Linked DNA regions of Homo sapiens. The protein of the gene in region 1 interacts with the protein of each later gene in a pairwise test. Each region holds a gene or a part of one and is shown on either strand. Other genes may lie near its edges. The genes, in order: BRME1, NDUFS1 and NUP58.

What was found.
Region 2: the proteins of BRME1 (region 1) and NDUFS1 interact in binary tests that used the Homo sapiens proteins (3 or more experiments, as listed by UniProt).
Region 3: the proteins of BRME1 (region 1) and NUP58 interact in binary tests that used the Homo sapiens proteins (3 or more experiments, as listed by UniProt).

What each region holds. Positions count from the first base shown.
Region 1 is NC_000019.10:13,904,496-13,908,246, reverse strand, and holds the start of BRME1 (break repair meiotic recombinase recruitment factor 1), read left to right. Parts: upstream 1-2,129; 5' UTR 2,130-2,136; coding exon of another isoform or gene 2,137-2,532; intron 2,533-3,333; coding exon of another isoform or gene 3,334-3,354; coding exon 3,355-3,385; intron 3,386-3,751. Other genes in the region: CC2D1A (coiled-coil and C2 domain-containing protein 1A), read right to left, coding at 1,746-1,805. UniProt on the Homo sapiens protein: Meiotic recombination factor component of recombination bridges involved in meiotic double-strand break repair.
Region 2 is NC_000002.12:206,124,764-206,128,514, reverse strand, and holds part of NDUFS1 (NADH-ubiquinone oxidoreductase 75 kDa subunit, mitochondrial isoform 1 precursor), read left to right. Parts: intron 1-542; coding exon 543-718; intron 719-1,670; coding exon 1,671-1,805; intron 1,806-1,903; coding exon 1,904-1,976; intron 1,977-3,751.
Region 3 is NC_000013.11:25,304,527-25,308,277, forward strand, and holds part of NUP58 (nucleoporin p58/p45), read left to right. Parts: intron 1-3,077; exon of another isoform or gene 3,078-3,114; intron 3,115-3,279; coding exon 3,280-3,422; intron 3,423-3,751. UniProt on the Homo sapiens protein: Component of the nuclear pore complex, a complex required for the trafficking across the nuclear membrane.

The DNA.
Region 1 (3,751 bases):
CCTGAGATGGGGAGTTCGAGACAGACCAGCCTGACCAACAGGGAGAAACCCCGTCTCTACTAAAAAATACAAAATTAACCAGGCATGGTGGCGCATGCCTGTAATCCCAGCTACTCGGGAGGCTGAGGCAGGAGAATCGCTTGAACCCGGGAAGCGGAGGTTGCAGTGGGCCGAGATTGCGCCACTGCACTCCAGCCTGGGGCGAGAGAGCAAGACTCTGTCTCAAAAACAAACAAACAAAAAAAGAACCCCTAACCACAATGCAGGTTTGCCATGCAGACCCGTCTTCCTATCTTGGCTAATGACCAATCATGATGTGATAACATCGTGTTTAACCATATGAAATTGCCTTTCCTGTAGGTAAAAAATGGCCAAATATTGGCAATTATGTATGGTTCCACCAACTAGTAATAATGATAATAGTAACATTTATTGAGTGCTATGTTCTAGCACTTTCCATAAACTATCTCAATGACTCTCTACAACTGTCCTGTAATGTAGGGTCTCTTGGAGGTCTCCATTTTTAATTTTTTATTTATTTATTTATTTTCAGAAGGAATTTATTTATTTATTTTGAGAAGGAGCCTTGCTCTGTCACCCAGTCTGGAATGCAGTGGCGCGATCTCAGCTCACTGCAACCTCCGCCTCTCGGTTCAAGCGATTCTCCCACCTCAGCCTCCCGAGTAGCTGGGATTACAGGTGCCCGCCACCATGCCCAGCTAATTTTTGTATTTTTAGTAGAGATGGGGTTTCGCCATGGCCTCCCAAAGTGCTGGGATTACAGGTGTGAGACACCACCCCGGACTTCCATTTTTAATTTTTTATCTTTATTTTAGAGAAAGAGTCTTGTTCTGTCACCCAGGCTGGAGCAGAAGTAGCGCAATCATAGCTCACTGCGGTCTTGAACTCCTGGGCTCAAGCAATCCTCCCTTCTTAGCCTCCCAAGTAGTAGTACTACAGGCACATGCCACCATGCCCAGTTAGTCTTTTTTTGTCGAGACGGGGGTCTTGCTTTTGCCCAGGCTGGTCTCAAACTCTGGCCTCAAATGACTCTCCCACCTCTGCCTCCGCCTCCATCTCCTGAAGTGCTGGGATTATAGAGATCTCCATTTTACAGATGAGAAAGCTGAGGCTCAGAGCTGTAAAGTCAAGTGTCCGATGTACAGAGGCCAGGAGGGAACTTCAGGTCAGCCAGACTCTAATATCTGAACACCAAGCTATGTCCTGGGCTCCTTCCATCAAAACTGAGAAAAATCAAACTATCTGGTGCCTGGGGCAAAGAAGTCGGGAGAGTGAGAAGGGGTCCAGCCACAGTGCCATAAGCTTATGGCTGCAGCCCTGGATTTGTGCTTAGCCCTGGCCAAGCTGTTAATCCCTATGACCTTGGGCAGATGTCTTCACGTCTCTGAGTCTCAAAGTCCTCATCTGTACAATGGAATAAAAAGAGTCTGACATGGCCCGACTGATGCAAGGGTTTGATGTGTCAAGTCCGAGGACTGCCCCTCCTCGACTGGAGCAGCTGTGGCAACAGGTGGCCCCGAACCCGGGGCAGGGCCCCAGGAGCTGGGGAGCCAAGGCCAGTAGGCCACACTTGGGTGGTGTTGGAGCCTCACCTGGGGGGAGGCGGGGACCGGGGCTTACCTGTGGGGCGGAGATCGGGCTTCCCTGGGGGGTGGGGCCCTTCCCTGAGCGAGTGACGGGGGTGGGGAGGGATCCCCAGGTCGGGCCGTGGGGCGCAAACTCACCTGGCGGGCGGCCGCGGCGCCTCTGCCCGGGGGTCCCGGGGGTCCTTTCCTCTTGTGCATCTTCAAGGCTGGATGCCCGGACCACCTGCCCCCAAGCCCGGCCTTGCCCTGCCTCCTTCCCCGGGCTCTGTCGCCGCGCACTCGCCCTTCCTGAGTCCTGCACTCCTCGTCGGCGCCCCGCGGCCGTCGATCCCGAGCCCTCGCTTCCCTGCTTGGCCGTCCCACTTCCGCCTCGGGCCTCGGGCGCCGCCGCACCGGAGCGCGGCCACTGGGCTCGCCGGGTCTGCCGAGCCGAAACTACAACTCCCGGCAGGTAGTGCGTGGGCGCGCAGGCGCCTGGCTGGGGCGGTGCTGACTGTCGCGGGCTGCGAGGGCGGTGTTTGCGTCGCTCATGCGCGGGGCGGGACCTCGCGGGGCGCGGGAAAGAGGCAGAGCGCGCGCAGGTGTGAGGGGCGGCGACATCTGTGGGGTTCAGAGCGTCTGTCAGTCACCGACGGGCTCCGGCTTCACGTGGGCTCTCGGCCTGTGGAGTCCTCACTTCTCGGTGGTCGGCGTAGTGTCAGTGTGGGGCTTGTCACCGGGAGCGGGGTCTACAGCGCCCACCCTCAGGCCTTTCCATCTTTCACCTCCGGACTCGAGGCCTCCAGCGTTCTGTGAGGGCCAATTTGGCCATTTATTTTTTCCAAAAAGAGTAACGCGGATAATTCAAGCGACTTATTCCCAACTGATCCAGGCAGAGCTCGTTTCTGATAAGGACAGAGGGTCCTCAACGACTTCTGTGGCCCAGGTCCGTTCTGGTTTGCCTCGCCCCCAAGGCTGGGAGAAACCGGCCTATGGCAGCTCTTTCCCCTCCAAGGACCCAGCTGTCCCCTTTAAAGTGGCACGATCTTGGCTCATTGCAACCTCTGCCTCCTGGCCTTGTACCACAGCCTCCTGAGTAGCTGGGATTACGGGTGTGTGCCACCGCACCTGACTAATTTTTTTTTTTTTTTTTGAGACGGAGTCTCGCTCTGTCGCCCAGGCTGGAGTGCAGTAGAGCGATCTCGGCTCACTGCAACCTCTGCCTCATGGGTTCAAGGAATTCTACTGTCTCAGCCTCCCAAGTAGCTGGGATTACAGGTGTGCGTCACGATGCCCAGGCTAATTTTTGTGTTTTTAATAGAGAGGGGGTTTCACCATATTGGCCAGGCTGGTCTCCAGAGGCCCCTGGAGAGTCCTCAAGTGTCCTTGGAAGGGCCCCCAGATACCCCAGTCTGGAGGGAGGGGCTTCACACAGGCTGTTTCATCCTAGGGACCAGAGTCTGGGTCCCCGGGGCTATCTATAAGGACCCCCCAGGGCCCATTTGTCTTTCAGGTCCTGGGCATAAGATCTTCAGTTTGGAGGAGGTTTGAATTCCTACCTGGCCATGGCCCAAAGTGGCTGTGACTCTGTGTCCCATCCTGTGTCCCAGTGGGAGCCATCTGACCCCTGGGGCAGCCAAATGGGCTGAGGTGGAGGTAGGGGTAACCTCTGCTCTCAGCCAAAGCCACTGGATATAAACAGAGACAGAGACTGCTTATAATGATGAGAGATTTTGCTTGTTTTCAGATTTCTCAAGGGGAAGATAAAATGACTAAGAGGAAGAAGCTGCGGACCTCAGGTACGTTCATTCAAATGGACACTTGTTGATTTCTGCTTCTGCTTGTGGGAAGAATGTGGGCTTGTTTATTGCAGATCTGGCTAACACGACTGCCTTAACCTCCTTAAAAGGAAGCAAGGATTGGCCGGGTGCGGTGGCTCACACCTGTAATCTCAGCACTTTGGGAGGCCGAGGCGGGCAGATCACAAGGTCAGGAGTTCAAGACCAGCCTGACCAACATGGTGAAACCCCGTCTCTACTAAAAATACAAAAATTAGCCAGGTGTTGTGGCACATGCCTGTAGTCCCACCTACTCGGGAGACTGAGGCAGGAGAATCGTTTGAACCTGGGAGTCCGATGTTGCAGTGAGCCAAGATGGTGCCACTG
Region 2 (3,751 bases), on another chromosome or scaffold:
TGAGCCACCACACCTGGCCCCCAAATGCTTTAACAATAATTTTCTTTGGGGCCGGGCGCGGTGGCTCATGCCTGTAATCCCAGCACTTTGGGAGGCTGAGGCGGGTGGATCACAAGGTCAGGAGATCAAGACCATCCTGGCTAAACACGGTGAAACCCTGTCTCTACTAAAAATACAAAAAATTAGCTGAGTGTGGTGGCAGGCACCTGTAGTCCCAGCTACTTGGGAGGCTGAGACAGAAGAATGGCATGAACCCAGGAGGCAGAGCTTGCTGTGAGCCAAGATTGCACCACTGCACTCCAGCCTGGGCGACAGAGCGAGACTCCATCTCAAAAAAATAATAATAATTTTCTTTGGGAAGGGAGTTGAATTAGGGTTGAGGTGGGCTTTAATTTTTATTACTTCACTACTGTTTCATTTTAGTTTTAAAAACTTTTGTGACTTTACAAAATGGGATTTAAAATGATATATACTATCTTCATGTACAGTAGAAAATCAGTTTTTAATAAAATTTTGGTTTACCATTTTCCATCTTTGTGCAGGACATCATGGTGATGTTGGGGCTCCCATAGCTGATGTTATTCTCCCAGGAGCTGCTTACACAGAGAAGTCTGCTACATATGTCAACACTGAGGGTAGAGCTCAGCAGACTAAGGTAGCAGTGACACCTCCTGGCTTGGCAAGAGAAGACTGGAAAATTATAAGAGCACTCTCTGAGGTATAATTTCTGAGTCATTTCTTAGTGATGCTACTAAAGGCATATTTGATATTTTAGCCTGTTAGAATGATTTTCAAAGTCAAGGAAGATGCCAGTCTGAAATGCAGAGATGATTTGAATAATTTCTATAGAAAACATGTATTCAGAAACAGGAATTCAAGGTTACAGTGAGCTCTCATTGCACCGCTGCACTCCAGCCTGAGGGACAGAGCAAGACCCTGTCTCTTAAAAAATAAAGGAACTTGAAATTGGTGCTTTTATTTTATTTTATTTATTTTTGAGACAGAGTTTTTCTCTGTTGCCCAGGCTGGAGTGCAGTGGCGTGATCTCAGCTTACTGCAACCTCCACCTCCCGGGCGCAAGCTTCCTGAGTAACTGGGATTACACGCATGTACCACCAAGCCTGGCTAATTTTTATATTTTTAGTAGAGATGGGGTTTCGCCATGTTGGCCAGGCTGGTCTTGAACTCCTGGGCCTCAAGCAGTCCTCCCACCTCGGTCTCCCGAAGTGCTGGGATTACAGGTGTGAGCCACTGCACCTGGCCTGAAATTGGTGCTTTTATTGTTGAAAATTGTTGACTTGTCTTTTGCCTGAAAATACATCTGTTAGCTCTTTATTGATGTAAAAGTAAGCATCCTGACTTTTAAAATAATAACACATTGTAAACTTTATGTATTTTAATAACAGGTTAGCAAAAACATTTGGATTTAGCATAGTATTGTCTCTTCATTTCATAGAGTCACTAATGTACTGACAGCTGTGAATGAATTAGAATTTTTGATATTTGTGTTCCCTGCTTAACTGCTTCCTTCATAAATGTATGTCTACTAATGGACACCAATAGGTTTTTCAGTAGTGCTGCATTATTTCACCATAGTTACAATTATCTATTATTTGATATTTTTAAGTATTAAAGCTTTTTGTTGTTTTTGGGGACCTGACATGTTGTAGATTGCTGGAATGACTCTTCCATATGATACTCTGGATCAAGTAAGGAACAGATTGGAAGAAGTCTCTCCTAATCTTGTTCGATATGATGATATTGAAGGGGCTAATTACTTCCAGCAAGCAAATGAGCTCTCAAAGGTAACAGCTCGCCTATGAGCAGTTTTCATAATGTTGTATCTACTGGTGTAACAGTACTAGTTTTCCATATTATTGTTGATCTCTTCTTTTTTGTGCAGCTAGTGAACCAGCAGCTTCTTGCTGACCCACTTGTTCCACCTCAGCTAACTATAAAAGACTTCTACATGACAGGTATGTAATTGTCAACATGACTCTGCCAAATACGAAAGGTAAGAAGTAATCAGATCACCTCATTTGGTGTTATAATTCCAATTTGTGATTGATAGTGTTTGCAATTCTTAATCTTTGAAGGTTTTCAAACATTGGAACTAACGTAAGCATATTTTCTGATTCTACTCTAGTTTTTTTGTTTCTGAAATGTAAGCAAAGTTTGAAAATCCAAGCAATTAATAGATTTTAAATATAAAATTTTGCTGTTGTAAGGAAAGTCACTGTGTAGCAATTTATGGTGAATTTTCCAAAGTGGCAAATAACTGCAGGTTTTTCTGAGAATTATAGGTGGAAGAATCAAAACATTTAAATGTGAAACATGTTAAACAGTGCTTCTGATGTAAATTGTTAGGAATGTTTTTAAGGAATGCAGACAAACTGAAACTTGTTTATTGCAGATTCTTAGAACAGTTGATACAACATCTAGGTTATGAGGTAGTTAATAGTTGATAGATTATTTTGACTAATTTTCTATCTAAAAGCACATAGAACTCTTAATTTTTTTATATAGTTTGTATCTAAGATTTTTTAAATAAGTATTTTAGTTAGATAATAAAGATTACCTTCATTGTAAAATAATACCTATGCTCAAAAGCACAACAAAAAATCACTTCTATGGTATTTATCTGCGAACTTATGAACACAAAGAAGGAAACAACAGACACTGTAGTCTACTTGAGAGTGGAGAGTGGGAGGAGGGAGAGGTGCAGAAAAGATAAGTCTTGGGTACTGGGCTTAATTCCTCGGTGATGAAGTATTCTGTACAACAAATCCCTGTGACATGAGTTTACTGGTGTAAAAAGCCTTCACATGTACCCCTGAACCTAAAAGTTTTTTTTTTTTTAAAAAAAGAAAAATCACTACCCTCCCACTATCAAGAAATAACTATAATTATTTTTAACATTTTAGTCACTCTTCCTCCAGGGACATACATATGCATTATACACATATATATTATATTAATTAACTATTGTTATTTATATGTAATTATTACTGTTTACATGTACGTGTGTGTGTGTGTGTGTGTGTATAATTTTTGAGATGAGATTTTACTCTGTCACCCAGGCTGAAGTGCAGTGGCACAATCTTGGCTTGCTGCAACCTCTGCCTCCTGAGCTGAAGTGATCCTCCCACCTCAGCCTCCTCGGTAGCTAGGACTATAGGCGCATACCACCACATCCAGCTAATTTTTGTATTTTTTGTAGAGATGGGGTTTCGCCATGTTACCCAGGCAGATCTCAAACTCCTGGACTCAAGCAGTCCACCCACCTCAGCCTCCCAAAGTGCTGGGACTACAGATGTGAGCCACCACCCCTGGCCTATATATTTTTTAGTGAAACAGAAGGTGAGATTAGGCCTGGTGCAGTGGCTCATGCCTGTAATTCCAGCATTTTGGGAGGCTGAGGGGGGCAGATGGCTTGAATCCAGGAGTTTCAGACCAGCCTGGGCAACATAGTCAGATCTGGTCTCTTTAAAAAAAAAAAAGTGAGATTATTCACTTGGGGGTTGATAGCTTTATTGAAATATAATTCATGTACCCTAAAATTTACTCATGAAGTGGACAATTCAATGTATTTTAGTACATATGCTGTTTTGTAACCTTTTTCAATAATAGTATTGTACACATTTTTCCTATATTTATTTATTTATTTATTTTTTTGAGACAAGAGTCTTGCTCTGTCGCCCAGGCTAGATTGCAGTGGTGTGATCTCGGCTCACTGCAAGCTCCGCCTCCT
Region 3 (3,751 bases), on another chromosome or scaffold:
TTTTTTTTTAAGACAGTCTCACTCTTGTTACCCAGCCTGGAGTGCAATGGCGTGATCTTGGCTCATTGCAACCTCCACCTTACGGGTTCAAGCAATTCTCCTGCCTCAGCCTCCCAAATAGCTGGGATTACAGGCACGCCACCACACCCGGCTAAATTTTTTATTTTTATTTTTGGTATTTTTAGTAGAGATGGGGTTTCACCATGTTGGCCAGGCTGGTCTCAAACTCCTGACTTCAGGTGATCCATCCACCTTGGCATCCCAAGGTGCTGGGATTACAGGCGTGAGCCACCACACCCAGCCGGCAGTAATGTTTTAGTATCCCCCAAATACTCATTTACCCTACTCCACATTATACACACAACAGTGTCAAAATAACAATACGATCAGACTACTACCAGCTAAGCTAAATGTTTTGGCATATATGCCCCTTTTATGGTTGTACTACCTATGTTGTCTGGATATAGCCATTACATACTATATTCTTTTGCTTGTAGCGCTCACTTAGGTTTCTGTGTGTGTGATCTCACTTAGTTTTGATTGTAGCAATATGTTGTTAAAAATACCTTTTAAATTAAGACTAAATGTTTAAAGATCTGTGGGGTTTTTTTTTTTTTTTTTTTTTTTTTTTTTTTGAGACAGGGCCTTGCCCTGTCTCCCAGGCTGGAATGCAGTGGCGCAATCTCAGCCCGCTACAACCTCCACCTCCTGGGCTAAAGTGATCTTTCCACCTCAGCTTCCTGAGTAGCTGGGATTACATTCAGGTGTGCATTGGCACGCCTGGCTAATTTTTGTTTTTTGGAAGTTTTTTGTTGTTGTTTTTTCGGTAGAGAGAGTTTCACCATGTGGCCCAGGCTGGGCTCAAGCTTCTGGGCTCAAGCAGTCTGCCTACCTCAACCTCCCAAAGTGCTGGGATTACAGGTGTGAGCCACCCGGCCTGGTCAAGATCTGTGTTTTAATTGTTAGCGAGAGCTTACCGCCCTGCTTTGTCTCCTGCCTCGCCTTCATATGCCCAAGGTGCACACAAACACATTTTAAAAATCAGTACTTCTCCTTTTACCTACTCAGTATGGATGGCACATCTCAAGTTCTACCCTTAATAAGCTCCTCCACCTCCATTCCCCTCACAGTGATTAGCTCTTTGCCTCAAACTTCTGCAGTATCTCTTTGCCATCGTTTGGTACTTGATTATAATCTTACTTATAGTAATTCTAAACTTACTGAAGGTGTGTACATTTCTACTGCTTGAATTATCTCCTGCTTGAGTATTTCTTTTCCTCCTTGTCTCCCAGTGTTTGCAAAAATTTGAGTGGCTTCTTAAGCTGATTATGAAATTGAAGACACCCGGACCCAAGTAACTTGGAGAACTCTTCTGGCTTGGAGTACAGTTATTTGTGTTGTTTATCCCCCTGGTAAACGGCATGTTCCTTGACTAGGGGACATCTTTCTGCTCCCTTGCTATTCCTGGCATAACGCCTTGTACATAATATGTTTAGTTAAATTTATAAGTATCCCTAATGATAACAGTCATAACAACATTTATTGAAGTTAATTCATCCTGTGCTCTGAACCCTTATATTTAAAAAAAAATTCTGCTGGCCGGGTGCGGTGGCTCACGCCTGTAATCCCAGCACTTTGGGAGGCCGAGGCAGGTGGATCACGAGGTCAGGAGATTGAGACCATCCTGGCTAACATGGTGAAACCCTGTCTCTAGTAAAAATACAAAAAATTAGCTGGGTGTGGTGGCAGGCACCTATAGTCTGAGCTACTCCGGAGGCTGAGGTAGGAGAATGGGGTGAACCCGGGAGCCGGAGCTTGCGGAGTGCCACTGCACTCCAGCCTGGGCAACAGAGTGAGACTCCGTCTCAAAAAAAAAAAAAAAAAAAAAATCTGCTAAGTGGGTACTGTTAATTCCTGTTTTGCAGATGAGGAAATAGAGGCTCAGAAAGGTTAAGTAATGGCACACAAGTACCAGAACATGGGGGGATTGGTACTGGAACCCAGCCACACTACTGCTGCCAGGGCTTTTGAGACTTTAAAAATGACATTGGGTTCTCCCATGGTGATTATTCTTTATGGAAGGGCAGCAAAGGAAATAATAAAGATAAATATGTAGGATAAAGAGAATTTGCCATTATGCTGTATAGTCTCCCTTAAATCTCCTACATAATTTTGGAAGTGTCAACTTGTCAAAATTTGCTTATTTTCACAGTTTGTCTTCCCACCTTTTCATAGCAAATCTGAACCCCTGAGTCTTGATAAGAGTAGTTGAAAAGTTGTGAAGTTTGTTCACTTTCACTTGTTTTTATCAGCTGTTCTTTTTTTAAGCTTTGCACTGTGCTCTGAAGAGTTTCTGTTAATGAATACATGATCCTGAGACAGGGTGATTTTGCTTTGCGTTTAACTTTTGCCAGGAAATGTCCCCACTAGTTTTTCTATGCTTTTTTTGGTGGTAAAATACCTAAGTCTATACTCTCCCCAACACCACATTGCCCCATGAATGTGGTAATGTAGCAATGGAAAGCTAGTGAAGATAATTTAAAATAACTTTTCTATGACCATTTAAAAATATGCTAGGTTTCAAACATTGGTGAAAGCAGAATAATTGTGATCCCTACTTATGATTACCTTGAGATCTGGAATCCTTATTGCTGTAGACTGCTTTTCTTGAAATCTGGTATTGTATTTTTTTTTTTTTTTTTTTTTGAGAGGGAGTCTCGCTCTGTCACTCAAACTGGAGTGCAGTGACACTATCTCAGCTGACTGCGACCTGCCTCCCGGGTTCAAGCAATTCTCCTGCCTCAGCCTCCTGAGTAGCTGGAATTACAGGCGTGTGCCACCACCACACCTGGCTAATTTTTGTATTTTTGGAAGAGACGAGGTTTCACCCTGTTGGTCAGGCTGGTCTCGAACTCCTGACCTTGTGATCCACCTGCCTCGGCCTCCCAAAGTGCTGGAATTACAGGCATGAGCCACCACACCCAGCCTGAAATCTGGTATTGTATTTTTTAAGACTACTTTTACATGTGGATTTATTTTTTTTTAAGACTACTTTTACATGTGGATTTATTTTTAAGGAAGAACAGAAACATATTTGAACTTGATGGGTTAAAGGTAAATTTATTTTTCTTTTTGGGTCCTATGACAATGTATTAGATATGTTATGTGAATGAAATTATCTTGAAGAGTTAATTTTTATTTTTCTTAAGTAAATATTGGCTCTAGTAGACCTCCTTTTGTGCATGTGATTTTTGTTTTGTTTTTGTTTCTTTAAATAAGCAACCCTTCTGTGGGGCTCAATTTTGGAAATCTTGGAAGTACTTCAACTCCAGCAACTACATCTGCTCCTTCAAGTGGTTTTGGAACCGGGCTCTTTGGATCTAAACCTGCCACTGGGTTCACTCTAGGAGGAACAAATACAGGTGAGGAGGATCTGATCACATTGTCAGAGAGTAGGCTTGGGATATTCTTTCCTAAATTGTGTCCTGTATCTCTCTTTACAAGGATCATCACTGGTAGTAGACCTTAAAAAATGGTAAATGCTAAGATGAAAAGAAATGCAAGGAATTGGAATTAAGGGCTAGTGATAGGCCCAATCATTGACTGTCATCTACTCTGATATAACGAAGGAAAACATACAAATATTAATTTAAATTTTTGGATTATATAATGTAGTGTTTTTCCTTAGTGGAGATTGTGGTTTAAGCCAGCTTTATCAATTTGGAACATTAACATACGTGAGATAATCAGC